Homo sapiens: one gene and its partner. The protein of the gene in region 2 interacts with the protein of the main gene of each other region in a pairwise test. Each region holds a gene or a part of one and is shown on either strand. Other genes may lie near its edges.

What was found. Proteins that work in one complex are often made in the same cells at the same time.
Region 1: the proteins of PBX4 (region 2) and RANBP3 interact in a two-hybrid assay, tested with the Homo sapiens proteins (one large-scale study listed by BioGRID).

The regions. Positions count from the first base shown.
Region 1 is NC_000019.10:5,968,141-5,971,640, reverse strand, and holds part of RANBP3 (ran-binding protein 3), read left to right. Parts: intron 1-3,500. UniProt on the Homo sapiens protein: Acts as a cofactor for XPO1/CRM1-mediated nuclear export, perhaps as export complex scaffolding protein. Bound to XPO1/CRM1, stabilizes the XPO1/CRM1-cargo interaction. In the absence of Ran-bound GTP prevents binding of XPO1/CRM1 to the nuclear pore complex.
Region 2 is NC_000019.10:19,563,951-19,566,687, reverse strand, and holds part of PBX4 (pre-B-cell leukemia transcription factor 4), read left to right. Parts: intron 1-1,598; coding exon 1,599-1,755; intron 1,756-2,737.

The sequences.
Region 1 (3,500 bases), about 14 Mb from region 2:
CCCAAGACCTTTTCAAGGGGACTGCAAGTTCAAAACTATTTCATAACAACACAAAGACACTATCTGCTCTTTTTTCACTCTTATTCACTTGAAAATGGACAGTGGAGTTTTTTTCCAGAGGTTATTGGATGTGTGATATGCCAACAGATGAACTATAGAAGCAGATAAGAGAATTCAGGCCGGGCACAGTGGCAAACACCTGCAGTCCCAGCTACTTGGGAGGCTGAGGTGGGAGGATCTCTTGAGCCCAGGAGTTCAAAGCCAGCCTGGGCAACAAAGCCCCTCTCTTTAATAAAAAAAAAAGAGAGAGAATTCAGCTATCTTCTATTAAGTCAGACGTTAAAGACATTTGTCAAAATGTAAAATAATGCCACTCTTCTCAGATTTTTTTAAATACTTATTTTTCATAAAAATATGTTATTTAACTAAACCTTTCTGGAGTTTATTATAATCTTAAGTATTTTGAAATTGTCTTAGGTTTCATTTCTAATATGGTGTCAGTAGTAGCTACATCCCACATTTCCAAAAGCTCTTGGGGATGTTCAGTCATTGACAAGCGTGGAAAAGGGTCCCGAGACCAGGAAATTTGAGAACCACTGGCATGTGCTAGCAGAGCCTCAGTGTACAGTGTGGGTTTCTCCGCTGCCTTGCCAACATCGGGAGAATTCTAAACCAGAGCTGACCAGCAGGTTCCCATTGGCAACTTGTGGCATGGTTGGAAGCACCTGGATTGGCTGTCCTTGGTTTGTGTCTTGCCTTCTGCCCTAGAAACATGGGCAAGTTGTCTGACCTTAGCTCTTGCATCTGTAAAATGGGAACGATGATACGCAAGTCTGAGGATTGTGGTGTGAGAGAGAATATACTTCTGGTAATTGACCTACTGGAATGTGGAGATACATGTCAGTTACTTCTAGCTGTGATTCTCCTAATTGGATGCCTGAGTAGAGAGAAAGCACCCTGTGAGTTATACCAGGGTTTTTCCACCTCAGTATTCTTGACATTGGGGCTGGTGGTGGCCATCTTGTGCTTTGGAGGATGTTGGGTAGCCCCTCTAGCCTCTACTCATGTGATGCCATAGCACCCAGTCATCCCACCCATCCACTCCCAGTCATGAGAAGATAAAAGGTCTCCAGACACTGTCCAGTGTCCCCTTAATGTCAGAATTGCCCCCACTTGAGAACCATTGGGTTATGGGATTTCATTGACACCCAAGAGACTTTGTGTTCCATAGTTATCTAACCTACTGAGGTCGTAGGAGCCTGTACACATTTAAAGCCACAGTCTGAGTGGGGAGGGAGAGAGGCGGTGAATCCCAGAAGCCAGGGTGGGGGGTCACCCTGGTTTGTGCCATCTAATCTATTGGGGATTTATTTTGGTGTATAATGTGAGTTAGAGATCCAGCTCAATTTTTTTGCCCAAGATTAATGCAAGGTTTCTTGCCCTCAGCTCAGTTGACATTTGGACTTGGGTCACTTGCTGGTAGGGCACTGTTCTGAGCCTCCTAGGATGTTGGTCAGCATCCCTGGTCTCCATCCACTAGATGTCTGTAACAGTTTCCTCCACACCCCCACAAACATGACAGTCACAATGTCTCCAGATTTTGACCAGTGTCTCCAGGGAGATGAAGTTACTCCTGGGTGAGAACCACTGGTCATAGGATCAAAGGAACCTACCCAGGAATAAATTAATTGCCAGCTAGAGTTTAAGGCCCTTCCTCCCAACCTTATTTTTCTATTCTGGCCTTTTGGCAGCTGAGTAGGCCTCAATGGACATCATATCCCTCTTCAGGAAGAACAGTCTTTTCCTTGACCTTTAACACTGCCTCTGGTCCAGGGTGAGGACCTGACAGAATGTAAGGGCTGGGAAGAACCTTCAGGGATGCCTGAGTCCTGGCTGCACCATTTCACAGGGGCTGAAGCCCGAGGCCATGGAAGCAGGTAGGGCTGGCTAGGGCCAGTGCGCCTGTCTCCAGCCATGGAGTCTAGGAGTTCATGCTTGTCCTTCCCGGTGAGTCAGTAAACTCTAGGTAATGGGCACTCGTTCACCCCTGAAAACTGACCCGCGTAGGGCACTGCATTTCGCTGTCGCTGTTTATGGTGTTCAAAGAAAGGGAGGAAATTCTAGAGACAGTAGTAGTTACTCCATACACATGTTTAGAAGGCAGGCCTTGCCTTTTGCAGTAAGTTTAAAATGCCTTTGCTAAATTAAACTCCCCCAGGTTTGCCACAGAGAATTTTGGGAACTTATTTACCCAGAATTAATTCCTGCGTTGCATCTGTGAGAGCAGAGCGTGAGTGGAAACGGTCCTTGAGAACTTGCCTTTCTCTGGGGGAGAGGGTGAGAAAACAGGCAGTTACCCTCTGCTCAGAGGAGAGAGGATGTTTTGCAGCATTGATGGTGATGGCCACTGGGTCCTAAGAGTCCAGAGCCTGGGCCCCAACCTTTACACTGGATAAATCCAGATTTGTCAGCATGGCCTGCAAGGCTGAACGTCCTGTGGGCTCCACCCAGCCCTTCCCGTTCTCCTCCCCTCCAAACATGGGCCTCCAGGCTCTTCCTTTCCTTAGAACCTTTGACTTGGGGTCCCCTCTGCCTGGGATCCCCTGCCTTCACCTGGCTCATCCCTGCTCACCCTTCATGTGTGAGCTTCAGCGAGGCCTTACCCATTCACTCACTCTCTCCCACCATCCTGTGGTATTTTCTCTGCAGCACCCAGCTCCAGAACTACCCAGTTATCTCTGCACACAGCAGGTACTTGTTTGTTTTCTCTTTCCCAGTAGAGAGCTGCGGCCTTGTCTGCCATTTCTTTCCTGTCTCCAGTGGCAAGCTCGGTGCCTAGCACAAGTCTGTGCTTGGTAGATCCTGCTGGTGAGAGCAAGGCTTGGCTGCTCGGCTCGGCCTGCCTTCAGATCCCACCTGTTTCCTGTGACCTCAGAAGGGCTCAGGCATTCCGAGCACCTGAGCGTTTGCCTTGAGTGTCCCAGGCGTCCAGGCAGCTCTTGGATCCAACCATTCCACCCCCTAAAAGGGGTCAGACTCTGACGCATTTGTCGTTGCCGGGCACTGGCAGCTGTCCTTGAATCCAAGGCCTATGCTTTAAGGTGGCATCAATATGTTTGCAATCTTCCGAGCATAATAATGCTACCAGTGCCAGTGTGGAATCATCCTGTGTGCCAACCACTTCCCCAAACACGGCATGTGCAGCATTTCATTTCATCCTTGCCGAAGCTGCCTGGGGTGAAATAACAGCCCTGATATGCAAATGAAGACATTGTGCCAGAGGTACATTGTCTTATCTGGGATCCCAACCGCAAGTAAGTGGCCAGGGCAGGTTTGAACACACACAAAGACCAGAGCCCGCGCTCTCCAGTATCATCAGTTTTGCTCTGCTGCCTCAGCATAAATTCTGTAGTTCTTGGATTTCCTTCCTGTAAGCTTCCGTGTAGAGAGGAGGGGATTCCTGTTGTCTCTACTGGAACTTTCCCGAGTCTTCAGCCACT
Region 2 (2,737 bases):
CCAGGCTTGGTAGCACGTGCCTGTAGTCCCAGCTACTGGTGAGGCTGAGGCAAGAGAATCACTTGAATCTGGGAGGCAGAGGTTGCAGTGAGCTGAGATCGCACCGCTGCACTCCAGCCTGGGTGACAGAGTGAGAAAAAAATGTTTGAAGTAGCAAAGGTCATCCACAATCCTCTTCCATCCCTCAGCTGTTTCATTTCTGTGTGTTATTATACTATACGTTTATTTTACTTGCTTTGGGATACTGAAATGTGGCCCTGGATGGACGTCTCCATGCCTGTAGGAAGGCGCTGGCCCTGGGGTGCTCACCCATGTGAATCTGCCCAGGGGACATTTTTGTTGTCACGACTAGAGAAGGGAAGTGCTCCTGGCACCCAGTGGGTGCCAAGGATACCGCTCAGCACCCTGCAGTGTACAGGACAGCCCCCACAGAGCAGATGGAGCCCAAGCATCAGCAGTGCCACCAAAGGTGACAAGCCCCTCCCTGGGGGACTCCAGTGCCAGTTTGCAGTCAGAGCTGGGCTGATTCCACCTTGGCCATGGACTAGCTCCTTTTTCTCCTGCCTCTGCTTTCTTACAGCAGGGACGATAACAGCTGCCTCCCAGGTCCTCATGAGGATGAGGCAGAATGATATATGAGGCTGGGCCTGGAATCCCAGCATTTTGGGAGGCCAGGGCGGGAGGAACTCTCAAGCCCAGGGGTTTGAGACCAGCCTGGGCAACAGAGCGAGACCCTATCTCTAAAAAAAAAGAAAAAATATATTTTTTTTTCTGAGACAGGGTCTCACTCTGTTGCCCAGGCTAAATTGCAGTGCGATCTTGGCTCACTGCAACCTCTGCCTCCCAGGTTCAAGTGATTCTCCTGCCTCAGCCTCCCGAGTAGCTGGGATTACAGGCATGTGCCACTGTGTCCAGCTAATATTTGTATTATTAGTAGAGATGGGGTTTCTCCATGTTGTCCAGGCTGGTCTCGAACTCCTGACCTCAGATGATCCCCCCACCTCAGCCTCCCAAAGTGCTGAGATTACAGGCGTGAGCCACCACGCCCGGCCAAAAAACCTTTTTTTAATTAAAATTAAGAAAAATATATGAATATATGAGAAGTGCTTATCCTAGCACCTGGTACATTCCAACTACCCCTTCAGAGTTCACCTTGTTTTCATTTGATAAGTTTGGGATTCGATCGCAGTTACTGGGTCCCCAGGTCTCCCTGGCTCTCACTTTTCCTGAAGAGAACACGGAACGTAACCTGCCGCCTGCTGCATGGCAGCCAGAGGCGCTGTCCCTCCCGGCCCACCTCAGACAGTCTTGTTTTCCTTCCAGCCCCTTCCCAGGTTCAGGTTCCAGCAACATCCAGTTTTAGGCAGCAGAGTTCTAAGACACGCCAGCTCCAGGGTGTCCTCAACCCATGTGGACATCTCCCTGGGTCCGTGGTTCAGAGGGCGCCACCTTCTCAGTCCCAGACTCTTCATAGCCCCAGGGTGCAGTGTTGTCTTCTAAGGCAGTGGGAGCAACGGGCACCCCAGGGAACCCACAGACTGCGTCGTGTCTCAGAAGTCGCTGGGTCAGCTCCTCCAGTGACTCCTGTGTGTCCGCAGGTCTCTAACTGGTTTGGCAACAAAAGAATCCGGTATAAAAAGAACATGGGGAAGTTTCAAGAAGAGGCTACCATTTACACGGGTAAAACGGCTGTGGATACCACGGAAGTTGGGGTCCCAGGGAACCACGCCAGCTGCCTGTCAACACCTAGCTCCGGTGAGTGAGGCTGGCCCAGGGACAGTCATCTGTACCCATGTGGACGGCCACTGAGCTGCATCTGGGGAGGCCACAGTGGGACCACATCTCCCTTCCCCCAGTGGTCAACTCTGTGTAACTCTTTCTTCTGTTTCAACTGTGAGAGTTCTGTTCCTCTTGGCCATGATCCCAACCAACAGATACCTGTGCTTTGGGGACAGAATGGCGATACTAATAAGAAAAGACATGAAAGGTCTGGGTGCGGTGGCTCACACCTGTAATCCCAGCATTTTGGGAGGCCAAGATGAGTGGATCACCTGAGGTCAGGAGTTTGAGACCAGCCTGGCCAACATGGTGAAACCCTGTCTCTACTGAAAATACAAAAAAAATTAGCCCGGCATGGGCTGGGTGCAGTGCCTCACACCTGTAATCCCAGGCCGAGGCGGGCGGATCACGAGGTCAGGAGATAGAGACCATCCTGGCTAACACAGTGAAACCCCATCTCCACTAAAAATACAATTCACAATAGCAAAGACTTGGAACCAACCCAAATGTCCAACAATGATAGACTGGATTAAGAAAATGTGGCACATATACACCATGGAATACTATGCAGCCATAAAAAATGATGAGTTCATGTCCTTTGTAGGGACATGGATGAAACTGGAAATCATCATTCTCAGTAAACTATCGCAAGAACAAAAAACCAAACACCGCATATTCTCACTCATAGGTGGGAATTGAACAATGAGAACACATGGACACAGGAAGGGGAATATCACACTCTGGGGACTGTTGTGGGGTGGGGGGAGGGGGGAGGGATAGCATTGGGAGATATACCTAATGCTAGATGACGAGTTAGTGGGTGCAGCACACCAGCATGGCACATGTATACATACGTAACAAACCTGCACATTGTGCACATGTACCCTAAAACTTAAAGTATAATAATAATAAAAAAAAAGAAAGAAAAAACAAATTATCTGGGCGTGGTGGTGGGCGC